Homo sapiens: one gene and its partners. The protein of the gene in region 1 purifies or fractionates together with the protein of each later gene. This does not show direct contact. Each region holds a gene or a part of one and is shown in the gene's direction. Other genes may lie near its edges.

Region 1 (4,199 bases):
AAATTTGAGATAATTTCTGATGTCAACTTGAATGAAACTTGAGTAGACCCACTTGAGTGGCTCTTGGTGACTTTGTTCTTCACTGAATTATGGACCAAAATACCTGTGACCTTTCCAAAACAATCACCTTGCTATTTGTTTGAACCTGGCGACGGCATAATTGCTGTATCAGATTCTCCCAGTTGCCCCGGAGGTCCAGGGCTTGGGGAAAGCCGTTGGTTGCCACAGCAGCAGACGTATTGAAACCCCAGAACTGTGAGGCTGGAGACGACCTGACTGTTGCTTTTCTTCACAGAGCTGCAGCTTCACTGCTGTCCTCTCTTTTGACTGTGTTAGTGGAATGAGTGCTTCTTGTTGGCACTTGAGCGGGGCTCCCCCCACCACTCAGTCGATCAGGAAGCTCTAGAACTGTAACTACCTTATAACTCTTTGTCAATTGACTGCTCTGCCATTCACTACCCTTCCAGATTCTGAGCAAATTAAGTTACATTCCCTTTTGGAGCCTCAGGGTCCTCACCGCAGAATGTGAGATCACGGTAACTACCACACTGGCCCTTGGGATGTCGAAGTATTAATATTAACCATAGAGCCTGAGAGGGGAGATGGAAAATTGTAAGCCTTCTCTGTGAATATGGGGTATTCTTGAAGACCAGAGGTGTTCTTGCCCGTAACGGCTATATTTTCTCTCCTTTGGGTTCAGGCTGCTTTGAATGCTGCATCAAGTGTCTGGGAGGAGTCCCCTACGCCTCCCTGGTGGCCACCATCCTCTGCTTCTCCGGGGTGGCCTTATTCTGCGGCTGTGGGCATGTGGCTCTCGCAGGCACCGTGGCGATTCTTGAGCAACACTTCTCCACCAACGCCAGTGACCATGCCTTGCTGAGCGAGGTGTAAGTATCCGGTTCCCTTTAAAAATGCATCTAAGGCCTGGCGTGGTGGCTCATGCCTGTCATCCCAGCAATTTGGGAGGCTGAGGCAGGCAGATCACCTGAAGTCAGGAGTTCAAGACCAGCCTGGCCAACATGGTGAAACGCCACCTCTACTAAAAATACAAAAAAAAATTTAGCTGGGCGTGGTGGTGCGTGCCTGTAATCCTAGCTACTTGGGAGGCTGAGGCAGGAGAACCAGTTGAACCCAGGAGGTGGATGTTGCGGTGAGCTGGTGAGCCGAGATGGCAACACTGCACTCCAGCCTGGGTGACAGAGTGATACTTTGTTTAAAAAAAAAGTATCTGAGATGCAACCACCTCATGATGTTTTTCAGAAAGACTACAGTGTGCTTTCCTAGCAGAAGATGAATGCTTTTACTTAAAGCTCACTTTATGTAGTTAGAAAAAGGTTCATGAGAGAAGGAAAAAGAAAGGGCCTAGAATATGGTAGCTGTTTAGGCCCCAGGGTGGAATGTTACTTGGGAATGGTAAGGTGCACACATAGGACACTCCACACATGGTAGCTGTGGACATGGGGAGCTGTGACATGGTGATAGGTGATGCTGCCGATTGTCTCAACAGAATTGTGTTGTTCCCAAGTAACAGATGCCTCCAGCTTTCTCCCAGGAAGTGACCATCCCTGGAATGGTAGGAGCCCTGTTGAGGACTGACCCCAACTCTAAGCCTACAGGAGCAGTATTTTAACATTAACTCTTCCAGCAGAAGAGCAGATCCCAGGGCATCCTCCATTGCAGAAGAGCAGATCCCAGGGCATCCTCCATTGCAGAAGAGAGGAAGGTCCAGGGGTTTAGCAGCAGATCTCTGCCTTTCTTTCTGGAAACATTCTCAATGGAGTCGCAGTGACTCCCACACATAGATTCTTGTAGCTGTGCAAGCTCAGCAGCAATCTACTTATTTCCTTCACATGTCTTCCCCTTTCTCCATTTCCTTCTACCGTTTCTTTTTCTTCCCTTGAATCCCAAAGTTCCAGTGTTAGTGTGTCTTATGATTATAAGAAACTTCTTCACCAGACTGAAAAAGACATGAATGAATTTTTATGGAATGGTCATGGAGTCATGTTGGAGACTCTTCAGTCCTTAGGGAATTTTATTCTTTCTTATCTGTTCACAAATGACCTCCAAAGAAATGAACACAGGTTGGGGAGATTATAAGGAGGGCTCAAGCAGGACAGGGGACTCACTGAGTTCCAACTATGTGCAAAGAAGAAATGTTTACCAAGACTGAACCTGGGAAAGGTGTGTTGATTTAATTAGGTAGTGATCTCAGTCTGTGGCTCTCAAACTTCTGAGAAGCTTTAAGAAAATCCCCATGCCTTACCCCAGACCAATTAGGACATAATCTCTGGGGGCGGGATCCAGGTACCAGTATTTTCCAAGCTCCCCAGGTGATTCCAGTGGGCAGCCGAAGGCTGAGGACATGTCATTTGTCTTTGTTAGCTTTTGTGGGACAAACTGCATTGTGAATTAACTTTCTGTATCTTAAACCTACTCGACCTACTACTATTTGTGTGGTGGGAGTCACAGTGCAAAAGACATCTCCCCAGATTACCCCCTAAAGAAGCCCTGAGTGCCTACTTAGGGGTTTTATCAGAGTGACATTAACCACTAGGCCTGGTTGGGAGGCATTTTGAAAGGGCAGAAAGAACATGTTGTCCATTGGGCCAGGGTTCAGATGCTGGCTTTGCCACTAACTGTGTATCCTCCGATGAGGAGCTTAACTCCTCAATGCCTGTGTTTTACTTATGTGCAAAATGAGGATTCTAACCCTTGCCGCCCAGGACTCAGGTAAGGATTAAAAGATTACAACTGGATGCTGCCCTGAGCAAAGGAAACATCATTCCCACCTTGGAAGGAAGGCCCAGGTTGCTGGGACATGGGCAGGGATGCCGCCCAGGATGCCCCACAAGTCCATCAAAGCCATCAGTGGGGCGAGTGACGCACTCACAGGAACATCCCCCTCATGTCCTCTCTCCAGCGTCCAGAAACGTAGTCACTACCAGGCAGTGAATTTAATGGTTCAGGATCTCTTCTTCTCTTTGTAGGATACAACTGATGCAGTATGTCATCTATGGAATTGCGTCCTTTTTCTTCTTGTATGGGATCATTCTGTTGGCAGAAGGCTTTTACACCACAAGTGCAGTGAAAGAACTGCACGGTGAGTTTAAAACAACCGCTTGTGGCCGATGCATCAGTGGAATGGTGAGTTGAACCTCTGATAACTGATTGTTTGATATACAACCAGAGCCATGCCTTGATGTATTTCCTTGTATTTGGCAAAAGCTACCAGGTATCGAGCGTGAATGGAGGGTCCATGACACAAATATTGGCTTTACCAATTTAGAGTTAGGACTATAAAAACCTTCAACATGCTATTGATAGTAAACTAAAGTCTATGGCTGGCAGAAATAAATCAAATGTTTTCATCAGTGTAAAGGTGAAAAGGGTGCTGAAGATTTTTCAAATGCCAAGTTCCCACTATAGAAGGAGGTAACTTTCATGTGGTCTCAGTGCTCCCCTTTGGTTGTCTTTAAATATGGATCATAGCCATAAAGACATACATGAACCATGGAAAATCGTCCTGATCCTTCTGTAAATACTTACCAGTACCTGCTGTACAGAGCGCCTAGCTGGGCTTTGCTAGCCACTAGAGGTGCAAAGATTAAAACACAGGCTGCTTTCTCAAGCAGCTTATAGTCTAAGACAGGGGTTAGCAAACTAGGGGCTGTGGGCCAAATTTGACCTACTACCTGTTTTTGTACAGCTCAAGAGCCAAGAATTTTTTTTTTTTTCTTTTTTTTTTTTTTTTGAGACGGAGCATCACTCTGTCTCCAAGGCTGGGGAGGGCAGTGTCGCGATCTCCACTAACTGCAACCTCTGCCTCCCGGGTTCAAGCGATTCTCCTGCCTCAGCCTCCTGTACAAGTCAGGGGAATGGTTACTTTTGTAGGGGAAGGAGGCAGCTGTTAAATAAAATGCCTGTGGAAAGCAGAGGGAAAATAGCCACAAATAGTGGGAATCCTCCTCCAAAGGAAAAAAAAACCAAAAACATCTCCTCACAGCTTTAAAATGACAGCTTTCCCCCTCACTTCTACCCATCAAGTTTCAAAAATAGAGGTCTAGTTTCCACCAGGGCACAGCATTAAGTCATCCACTGCCTGATGTTTAACATATTTGGATCCTTTGAGCATTGGTCAGGACACAGTACATGGTGGAGAGGAGAGGAGCTTGTTTGTACTTGAGCTAGTGGCACTTCAC
Region 2 (3,849 bases), on another chromosome or scaffold:
TATACTCCTGAACATGTAAAAAGTCCAGCCCTGTTTCTTTTTTTCCTGTTCTTTCTAAGAAAGGGAGTTTCGTGCTCCAACTTTGGCATCCCTAGAAAACTGCATGAAGCTTTCTCAGATGGCCGTTCAGGGACTTCAGCAATTTAAGTCTCCCCTTCTGCAGCTCCCTCATATTGAAGAGGACAATCTTAGACGGGTTTCTAATCATAAGAAGGTAATTCTTTGCTACTTTAAAGTCAGTTTTCAGCAGTTTGTCCTGTCACTTAAAGGTAACATGAATAAAAGTTTTCTGGAAATGGTTACTATGCATTTTTTAGATTTAGAATGTCTTAAATACTCTAAAACTTTCTCTCAGGTGGTTCTGTTAACATTTTCTTGACTAGGTAGCTGTGTTTTATAGTATTTTACTACTGTAAGTAGTTTTATTATTTTGGGGGTTGTTGCATTTAAAAAGTCAACAGTTAGTTCCTTATATTATGTTACCAAAAATAAATGTACTGTCTACTTTACAGTCATTTTATTCTTGGCTTAAGGTTGGGCAATTGTTTACTGGTTAAGCATGAACAACAAAAACATTTAATAAATCAAATAAAGACAGTTCTTATTTAGAATATATAATCTATAGTATAAACATGATAATGAATCTTAAGATATAACAAAAATTTGTGTAAATGAAAAACTTGAGGAAATATAAGAAACTGAAGTTACAATTCTAGTAGGAGATTTTAAACATTATTTTGTATATGATAGATAAAACTAGCAGAGAATAGACATTGGATTTGATAGTATATTAATGTAGAATTAATAAATGCATGTTGGAAATTAGTATCAGAGTTCTCTGTCCTTTTAAGTACTCATGTTCCCCTTATAAATTTGATTGTATGTTAAGTCATAATTAAAAACTTCAGAATCTAAAAGCAGAGATTTTACATGCCTCATGATCTAATCTGTGTCTTTGAAAGTGAAAAATAACTAGCACCAAACACCTGGAAAATTAAAGAACACGCTCCTAAGTAACCATTTTGCCAAGATGGATATTACTGTAGTAATAGCTATATTTTAAGAATAACAAAAATGAGAATATTGCATAGTAAAACTTTGAAGGTGCGTCTTTATTGAGGTTTATTTTTACTTTTATTAGGTAAAAGTAAACGTTTATTATTAAAGGTTTGTTAATAGTAAACCTATTAATTGCTAATTAAAGGTTTTTGTTATTAAAATTGAAAATAAACTGAGGACATCAATTGACAAAGTTCTTGGTTGAGTCAAGATTCTTATTTTTTCCCTCCAACTTTGTTTTTTCTAATTTAAAAAAATAAGCCTGTATTAACTTTATAATTTAAAAATTCTTAATTTAAATTTTCTTGGAGAAAAAGGTCATGAAATGCCATATCGTTATTTTGTACTTTGAAATGCACATTAATCAACACTTTTCTAAAAGTTGCTGGATTTTGTTGTGGTTAACATGTGAGTAATTTTCTTTTTATGAAAAGCTTTGTGAGTTAGGGAATTATGTATTTTCTTTTTTTTTTTTATTCAGTATAAAATTAAAACTATCCAGGATTTGGTGAGTTTAAAAGAATCAGATCGTCACACTCTACTGCACTTCCTTGAAGATGAAAAATATGAAGAGGTTATGGCTGTCCTTGGGAGTTTTCCATATGTGACCATGGATATAAAATCACAGGGTAAGTGGGAGGTTTCTCTGTTGAGCATTGCTTCCCTTTTGATAGATTGGTTCTCATTTATTTGACTCAGGATTCTCAAAACACTGTACTTAATAACATAACTTGTTATTAGACTTTGCAGAACTGTAGTTTACCTGTCAGATTTACTATGTTGGAAAATGATTTATACCTAATAGTTTGAGAACACTGATAGAGTCCTACTTTTATTATCCTCATAATGGGATGAAGTCTGAACACTCTGTTCTGTAGTTCAACTTTTAGCAATTTCTTAACTTTCCAAAGAATGATGAAGACTTCCAGGCATAATAAAAGAATGAGATATTTGAAGTATATTATTAGTATGAAAGAAATAGCTGCCTAGTTCTAAAATTAAATTTTTAAAACCCAACTTATTTATGTTAATTAAATGTTGAAAATTACTGTGTTTTATGCCACATTTCATGTGTTTTTCTTGCCCTACCTCTATATTTTCTTTGAGGGAAAAAAATAAAGGCTATTTTTCTACCTATATAATTGCTCTGTGTTTCTATTTCAATATCTGAATGGTCTTAGAATACTGAGAGAATTAGAGACTATCTGCTCCATTCTTTCATTGTGGTGGTGGTCTGAGCTTTAACATTTGCTAAGTTACTATTATGAGAACATTCTTTTAGTTACCAAGAATACAGGGATATATTAATAATGGTTTCTGTCTTTATTTTATTTATTTATAAATAATTTTTGAGACAGGGTCTCACTCTGTCGTCCAGGCTGGAGTGCAGTGGTGCGATTTTGGCTCACTGCGTCCTCTGCCTCCCGGGCTCAAGCAATCCTTCTACCTCAGCCTCCTGAGTAGCTGGGACTACAGGTGCACACTACCATACCTGGCTAATTTTATTTTTTGTAATTTTAGTAGAGACAGCGTTTCACCATGTTGCCCAGGCTGGTCACGAGCTTCTGGGCTCAACTGCTCCACCTGCCTTGGCCTCCCGCAGTGCTGTGATTATAGGTGTGAGCCACCGTGCCTGGTTTGTGTCTTTAAAGAGAGCTTATTGTCTAGTTGAAGCAATAGGCTTAAAAATAAGATAAGGGCTGGGCCCAGTGGTGTCATGCCTTTAATCCCAACACTTTGGGAGGCCAAGGCAGGGGGATCACTTGAACCCAGGAGTTCGAGACCAGCCTGGGCAACATAGTGAGACCCTGTCTTTATAAAATTAAAAAAAAAACACACACACACCAAGATAACATATGCTAAGTGTTAACGTGAATGACACAGACATTGTACCATTTATTTATACAGCAAATATTGAATGCTGTGCACTCCTCTAGGTGCTAGGGAAGCAGTGGTAAGACATACCCTCTGCTTATTGAGCTTGTATTCTAATAGGAATTCTAATTGGGAAAGGAAGGCAAACAGTGCAATCTGGTTTCAGTTTGGCTGGAGTGTAGCATATGTGTTGTGAAAACTTGGTTTGCTTTGGTGAGGAGTTGGGGTTGCCTTGTGGGGCCATGAGTTTTCAGACTTTAAAAATACTAATTTAAAAGCTGTATTTAGGACTGTGCTGATTTAATAAAACTGTCCAAATAAAAATTTTGGGACTTAGAGATACTTTGTGATATTAAGAACTGTTAAAAGTATACCCTTTTCTTTTCTTTTCTTTTCTTTTTTTTTTTGAGACAGTCTTGCTCTGTTGCCCAGGCTGAAGTGCAGTGGCACTATCTGGGCTTACTGCAACCTCCAACTCTAGGTTCAAGTGATTCTCCTGCCTCAGCCCTCCCAAGTAGCTGGGATTACAGGCGTGTGCCACCACCATGCCCAGCTAATTTTTGTATTTTTAGTAGAGACGGAGTTTCACCATGTTGGCCAGGCTGGTCTCGAACTCCCAGCCTCAGGTGATTCACCCACCTCAGCCTCCCAGAGTGCTGGGATTATAGGCGTGAGCCACCATGCCTGGCCAAAAGTACATGCTTCTTAGAAAAATGAATATTAGAAGAGATTTTCTTATAGAAAGTAGAAATTTAAGAGTGTTCGGCCTCACTGACAAATATTACCATGGATCCACTCCATAGCATCTTGGATAGACAGTTTATTTATATTTTTACAGTGCTGCCTAATTATGTAATAATAGTGCTATAGTTGGTGAAGGAGGAGTAGAAGAAATATAGAAGCAGGAAAGGGGCA
Region 3 (2,676 bases), on another chromosome or scaffold:
ACTCATTTTGAGGAGATAAGGAAGGCCAGTTGAGTATATGGCCCAGGTGCAGCTTGGAGGGCCAGCCTTCTCAAATGTCCTGGTGTACTGGTGGGGAGGCTGCCCCCTAATAGAGCGAGCGCTGAGAAGCAGCCAGACCACATTCTATAATCTTTGAACATGCTGGCAGATGGAGGCTTTTAGGAGAATAGTTTTTTAAACATTCTGACAAGGTCCAGCCAGGAATTTCTAAGGACTTAGAAATCCCAGCGTCATGGAGTTGCTTGGGGTCAACACAAGTCACCTCTTAGCTTCATGCCTTAGAATTCTCAACTGGCTGTTTTCTTACCACCTGAGAAACTAAATTTCTCAATTATAAAAATCTCATGTATTATTACTGTTAGAAGTATTTGCACCTCATATATATCTCATTTACAGTTTGACCTTGGGATATCGAGTTGTCTCATATTTAGGTATGAATACAGGTTTCTATTTTAAACATTGATTCTCACATGCTTCTTAATTATTCATGGATGACAAGCCATTATAGTAGTCCCTTCTTATCCACGGCTTTGTTTTCTGTGGTTTCAGTTACCTGAGGTCTGAAAATATTAAATGGAAAATTCCTATAACAATGCATAAGTTATAGATTACATACCATTCAGTGTAGCATGATGAAATCTCTTGCCAATCTGTTCCATCCACCTGGGATGTGAATCATCCCTCTCTCTGGTGTATTCACACTGTATGTGCTAGCCGTCTCTGTTACGAGATCAGCTGTCGTGGAATCAGTGCTAGTGTTCAGGTAACTCTTATTTAATAATTGCCTCAAAGTGCATTGTGCTGTGCCTAATTTATAAAATAAACGGTATCATAGGTATGTATGTATACGAAAAACATAGTATATGCAGGGTTGGGTACTATCCACAGTTTCAGGCATCTACTGGGGGGTCTTGGAATATATCCCCAGAGGGTAAGGGGTGACTACTGTATACAGCCATGCCAACATGCTGGTTCTCAGAGAGTTATAAGAGAGATTAAAAATACATGCAGCTGTTTGGGCACTTTCTTCCCAAATAAAATACCCAGTAAAATGTAACATACTACCTATAGCTTGATAATCTATCTGAGGATGTTTATGATGTCTGTCTATATACTTTAATTTGGCCTTAGCTTCTTTGTAGGTATCAAGTTATCACTTGCAAATTTATTTTCAAAAAGCATAGTTTCTTGTACATTTTAGAAGATTAGTTTTTCTTATTTTGGGACACCTACACCAATGTTTTAAATGTGGATAAATTTTAATGTGGAATTTCTTTTAAAAATAATCCTCTTCATAGAGCAATACAACAAAAATGTGTTGTATCTTGGAGATTTACATTATAAATGTAGTAACATTTATGAGCTTAAATTTAATGAAACCTTTTTTTTTTTTTTGAGACAGTCTTGCACTGTCGCCCAGGCTAGAGTGCAGGGCATGATCTCAGCTCACTGCAACCTCCGTCTCCCGGGTTCAAGCAATTCTCGTGCCTCAGCCTCCTCAGTAACTGGCATTATAGGTGTGCACCACCACACCTGGCTAATTTTTGTATTTTTCATAAAGACGGGGGTTTCACCATGTTGGCCAGGCTGGTCTCAAACTCCTGACCTCAGGTGATCAGCCTCCCTCGGCCTCCCAAAGTGCTGGGATTACAGGCATGAGCCATGGTGCCTGGCCAAACGTTTTTATTACAAATATTACATTAAACTAAAGCTCACAACTGTTATTATGCATCAGGAATTAACAGTCATTTCTCATTTGTGTTATTCTCCTATTTGATAACATATAGTGACTATCTCTTTATGGGTTAAATATCAGTTTCTTGGCCAGAATTCAAGATCTGCCCCTAACTAATCCTACTTCTCCCAGTACCCTTACAGCACTCCTACCCTACTAGTAACTCTGATATCTCATAGTCCTCAGATTTATCAAGCAAACGAAACTGAATGAGCACTACTATAAGGTACCACAAACTACAAAAGGAGACAGTTTTGCCCTTGTTGCTTTCAGTTAAATTATTGTGCTATTTTTTGCTTAATTTCTAGGTTTTTTTTGCGTGTTTATCATGTCTCCGTAGGTAAAGTGGGCAGAAATCTTTTTCTACTTTACATTTCCTGTAAGTGCTGTTTGTTTGAATAAAGTTAATGTGTGAGGTTACGGTTACTTTTTATTTTTAATCAACATGATAGTTTTGGGAATTTATTACTAAAATTTATCAAAGCAGGCAAGGAATGAAGTTGTATCCTTCACTGTCAAACATTACTTGAGTCCCTTTACTACACAAAAAAGCCAAAGAATACAAGAATACAGAGACATACTTCCTGATTCCACAGAACTCATAATCTGGAAGCACAGCCCATGAAAGCATTTCAGTACAAACTGGTAAATAATAGGGACAGGAAAACCTAACTAACTCAGCTGTCAGCTGTGGTTGCAGGCAGGCCGGCAGTGGATGGTTCCTTCAGTGATTTCTGAACTGAGTTTGAAGCATGGGCAGGAATTAGTAGGTCAGACACAGAACAAAAGAAGAGCAGTCTTCATCAGACATTTAGCTTGCCTGAAAATCACAAGCACAATCTAAAAAGGTAGTGAAAGGTCCTTGAGAAACACCATTTATAATGTTGTTTTGGTTTTTGAAATTTTTAGACTCTTAGAAT
Region 4 (3,849 bases), on another chromosome or scaffold:
ATTGATTCTACCCTCACCATTGGAATGGCTCTCCTCTTTGTGCCAGATTGCATCATAAGTCTTCAACTTAAATCTCCTTGCACTTTAGCCTTTCTTGTTTATTCTGGCACAAACTGCTATCTCTATTCTGACCTGTTAAGCACACATTTTGCTATAAAATCAAGTACTGCTTTGTGTTTAATTTGGGTCCACATATATTTCTCAAGCGCTTTGTGCCTCACACTGTTAGTTGTTAGGGGAAATGAGGATAACATAAAAGTGACATTTCCTAAACTAAGACTTCAATTTCTCTTATACTCTTTTTACTCCTAGTTAGTAGTGTAGTGCTAGGCCCAGACATTAAGCAAGAACTTGTTGACCCAACCTGTTGCATGGGATCTGACCTCCTGTGCTTCCTTCCATAGAAACTTACTAAGCATTCACTCTGCTGAGCGCTTGGGTGGATGCTAGGGATGTGGTGGAGACAGGAGCTGCTTGGCCTGTCAGAGGCTTCCCACCCTCTGGTGGTACCAACAGGCTACACAGGCAAGTGCCGTGCCGTGCTGTGCCGTGTGCCAGGTGCTATGCTAAGGAAGTGCAGGGTGATGTGAAAGCGCCAAAGAGAAACCTAACACAGACTTGTGCGGGCAGGGAACAGTTGCCCAAGGAAATGATGTGACACTTGAGCAGGACCCGAACAATAGAGGTTAGCCAGGAGAGAGGGGAGAGTCTCCAGCAGAGGGAACAGCACTGTGACAGGAGTGACAACAGATGCATCAATAGGAACATTCAGCAGGAAGACAACAGAGAGGTGATATAGGCCAGGTTAAGCCAGTGGAAAAAAATAGCAGGATTTTAAGTATTGCACGTAAAAGCTTTCTGATTTCTCCAGTCCATTCTGGCCACATGGGGAGTGGATCAGTGAAGAGCAGGGAGAGCAAGACTGGAAGGGCAGTAAGATGAGCCGGCCTACTGTAGCAGCCCAGATGGAGGTGCTCATGAGCTGAACTTCGTAGGTGAACATGCTTGAGAAACATTCTGCAGTAGTATTGACCAGGACTTGGTGATTAACTGGATGTGTTAAATGAGGGAGGAAGAGAAGACTACCTAGGGTTTTGGGAGCAGGGCAGCTGTGAGAATGGTGTTGGCTTTCTCCCAGAGGGGAAATCCAAGAGCAAATGCCATTAATGAGCCAAGTTTTGAACCTGCAGAATTTGAGTTCATCTGTGGGACATGTGAGGGCATGCGTCCAGGAGGTAGTTTTGTATATAGGAGTCTGAAGTTGAGAGGAGTCTGGTCTGGAAATAAAAAATGAGGATTGTCCTTGTGCAGGTAGTTATCAAAGCTCCCGTGGATGTGGTTAAGATCGCCTGGGGAATATGTACAGAGTGAAAAGAGGCTCTCAGTACAAAATGCAGAGAACAGGAACAGCTGAGAAATGGGGAGAAGAAATGGAGAGGCGGGGAAAGCCATCCAAGTGCAGTGTCTTAGAAACCAAGGAAGAGAGTGTTTGGAGAAGAATGGAGAGGGCACAGATTCCGATGCTGCCCAGATGCTGGGGAAGGTAAGGCAGTCACTGGTGACCTGGGCAAGAGCAGTCTTGAGGGAGAAGTAGAAGCAAAAGTCAGACTATGAGCAAAAATCAAAAGTCAAGCACTCAGAAGTGAACAAGTAGAGTTGGTAAGTGCAAACCACACTTTCAGTAAGTTTATCTGTGAAGTACGGGGAGGGGGAGAAGAGACAGTGGCTAGGGGTGGGTGTTGCAGGACCTGAGAAAGGGCATGTGGTGCCCTAGCTTCCTAGCTGATAGGAAGGAGCCAGTAGAGAGGGAAAGGGTAAAAGATGCAGGTCTCTGAGAAAGTACAGGATGCTCTCCAGCTTCAAGCAGAATATGATATGAGCTACTGAATTCTGTTCTGCAGGGATTTCACCAGTTCTAAAAACATTTGGAATGATTTAATTTCTCTCCTATACATCCAGGATGATATCAGCTCTGTACCATCCTTCAGATAATTGGGAAAGCAGTCACTTGAATCATTCCCTGAAGGGCTTAATTCTCCTAGGAATATGGCTAAGAAGGGCTGGCTAGAGTAATTTATATTTCATGTGTATCATTTGGCAGAAACTAACCACAACTTTCATTTAGTTCAGCACTGTTGTTGGGCATGCAGTAGTCTCAAATATGCCAGAAATCCAGGCAGTAACATAAGCACGGCGATAGTATGCTTCACTTAGGTGATTCACTTTTTTATTTTTTCTGCTAATGTAATTTGAACTATTAAAATTGTTTTTTATATGTTTTTACTCCTTTTGTTTTTCTAATACCTGTTAATATTCTACCATCTTGCTAACATTCTCTAGTCTTCTTTTTTAATTATCTGCAATATATCTTTTTTAATAGGCTAGTCTTCCATCTACTTGTCTATTTTAACTAAGAATAAAGCAGCAGGCTGGGTGTGGTAGCTCACGCTGGTAAATCCCAGCACTTTGGGAGGCCAAGATGGGAGGACCACTTGATGCTAGGAGTTAGAGGCCAGCCTGGGCAACATAGTGAGACCCTATCTCTTAAAAAAAAAAAAGTGAAGCAGTATTATTATGAAGCTTTGAAAACTAAAAAACTTAAAATTATTTTATCTTGTACTGTAGAAGTTGAATAAGCAAATGTCTAGACATACATTTAATTAAGTTTCTCATAAGTCCCTTAAATTTTTTGAAGATTTCTATTCATCCTCATTCTTATGAACACACTCAAAAACTTAAAAGATTACATGATTTGTGTTTTTTTTCTCAGGAGTTGTGGAGTGTATGGCAGCTGGCACAATTATCCTTGCACACAATTCGGGGGGCCCAAAGCTTGACATTGTGGTTCCTCACGAAGGAGATATAACTGGCTTTCTGGCTGAGAGTGAAGAAGACTATGCTGAAACTATCGCTCACATTCTTTCCATGTCTGCAGAAAAGAGACTCCAAATCAGAAAAAGTGCTCGTGCATCTGTAAGCAGATTCTCTGATCAGGAATTTGAAGTGACATTCCTATCATCTGTGGAAAAGTTATTTAAGTAATGCCATATCTGTAAAATTAAAGATATTTTATATAAACTGGTTAAACACCTTCATATGTAAATATTTTTCTAAATTCAATCTCATTTGTCAAATCATTTTACTTTAGAAAACAGACAAAATTTCCTTTTAGAATAAAAGGAAGTGTTGAAAAGAAAATGGATGACTAGCCTTCGGCTTCCATTCTTGGTATACATGAGAGAGGCTGGCTGCTGAGATGAATGTGAACCAGGTTGCAGAGAATCTGGCTTTGAGCCACCAGGAAGAACTAGTGGATTTGCCAAAAAACTACCCCTTGAGTGAAAATGAAGATGAGGGGGACAGTGATGGAGAGAGAAAGCATCAAAAGCTTCTGGAAGCAATCATTTCCCTTGATGGAAAGAATAGGCGGAAATTGGCTGAGAGGTCTGAGGCTAGTCTGAAAGTGTCAGAGTTCAGTGTCAGTTCTGAAGGATCAGGAGAAAAGCTGGGCCTTGCAGATCTGCTTGAGCCCGTTAAAACTTCATCTTCTTTGGCCACTGTAAAAAAGCAACTGAATAGAGTCAAATCAAAGAAGGTGGTGGAGTTACCTCTTAACAAAGAAAAAATTGAACAGATCCACAGAGAAGTAGCATTCAGTAAAACCTCACAGGTCCTCTCCAAATGGGACCCTATCATCCTGAAGAACCAGCAGGCAGAGCAGCTGGTTTTTCCCCTGGGGAAGGAGCAGCCAGCCATTGCTCCCATTGAACATGCGCTCAGTGGCTGGAAGGCAAGAACTCCCCTGGAGCAGGAAATTTTTAACCTCCTCCATAAGAACAAGCAGCCAGT

Evidence for each region.
Region 2: the proteins of GPM6B (region 1) and SEC63 purify together in Homo sapiens (affinity purification with mass spectrometry; one large-scale study listed by BioGRID and IntAct). This does not show direct contact.
Region 3: the proteins of GPM6B (region 1) and FAM162A purify together in Homo sapiens (affinity purification with mass spectrometry; one large-scale study listed by BioGRID and IntAct). This does not show direct contact.
Region 4: the proteins of GPM6B (region 1) and ALG11 purify together in Homo sapiens (affinity purification with mass spectrometry; one large-scale study listed by BioGRID and IntAct). This does not show direct contact.

What each region holds. Positions count from the first base shown.
Region 1 is NC_000023.11:13,782,310-13,786,508, reverse strand, and holds part of GPM6B (neuronal membrane glycoprotein M6-b), read left to right. Parts: exon of another isoform or gene 1-536; intron 537-700; coding exon 701-887; intron 888-2,987; coding exon 2,988-3,144; intron 3,145-4,199. UniProt on the Homo sapiens protein: May be involved in neural development. Involved in regulation of osteoblast function and bone formation. Involved in matrix vesicle release by osteoblasts; this function seems to involve maintenance of the actin cytoskeleton.
Region 2 is NC_000006.12:107,899,209-107,903,057, reverse strand, and holds part of SEC63 (translocation protein SEC63 homolog), read left to right. Parts: intron 1-59; coding exon 60-214; intron 215-1,540; coding exon 1,541-1,688; intron 1,689-3,849. UniProt on the Homo sapiens protein: Mediates cotranslational and post-translational transport of certain precursor polypeptides across endoplasmic reticulum (ER). Proposed to play an auxiliary role in recognition of precursors with short and apolar signal peptides.
Region 3 is NC_000003.12:122,410,159-122,412,834, forward strand, and holds the end of FAM162A (protein FAM162A), read left to right. Parts: 3' UTR 1-2,176; downstream 2,177-2,676. UniProt on the Homo sapiens protein: Proposed to be involved in regulation of apoptosis; the exact mechanism may differ between cell types/tissues.
Region 4 is NC_000013.11:52,025,549-52,029,397, forward strand, and holds part of ALG11 (GDP-Man:Man(3)GlcNAc(2)-PP-Dol alpha-1,2-mannosyltransferase), read left to right. Parts: intron 1-2,770; coding exon 2,771-3,042; 3' UTR 3,043-3,256; coding exon of another isoform or gene 3,257-3,849. Other genes in the region: UTP14C (U3 small nucleolar RNA-associated protein 14 homolog C), read left to right, coding at 3,257-3,849. UniProt on the Homo sapiens protein: GDP-Man:Man(3)GlcNAc(2)-PP-Dol alpha-1,2-mannosyltransferase that operates in the biosynthetic pathway of dolichol-linked oligosaccharides, the glycan precursors employed in protein asparagine (N)-glycosylation.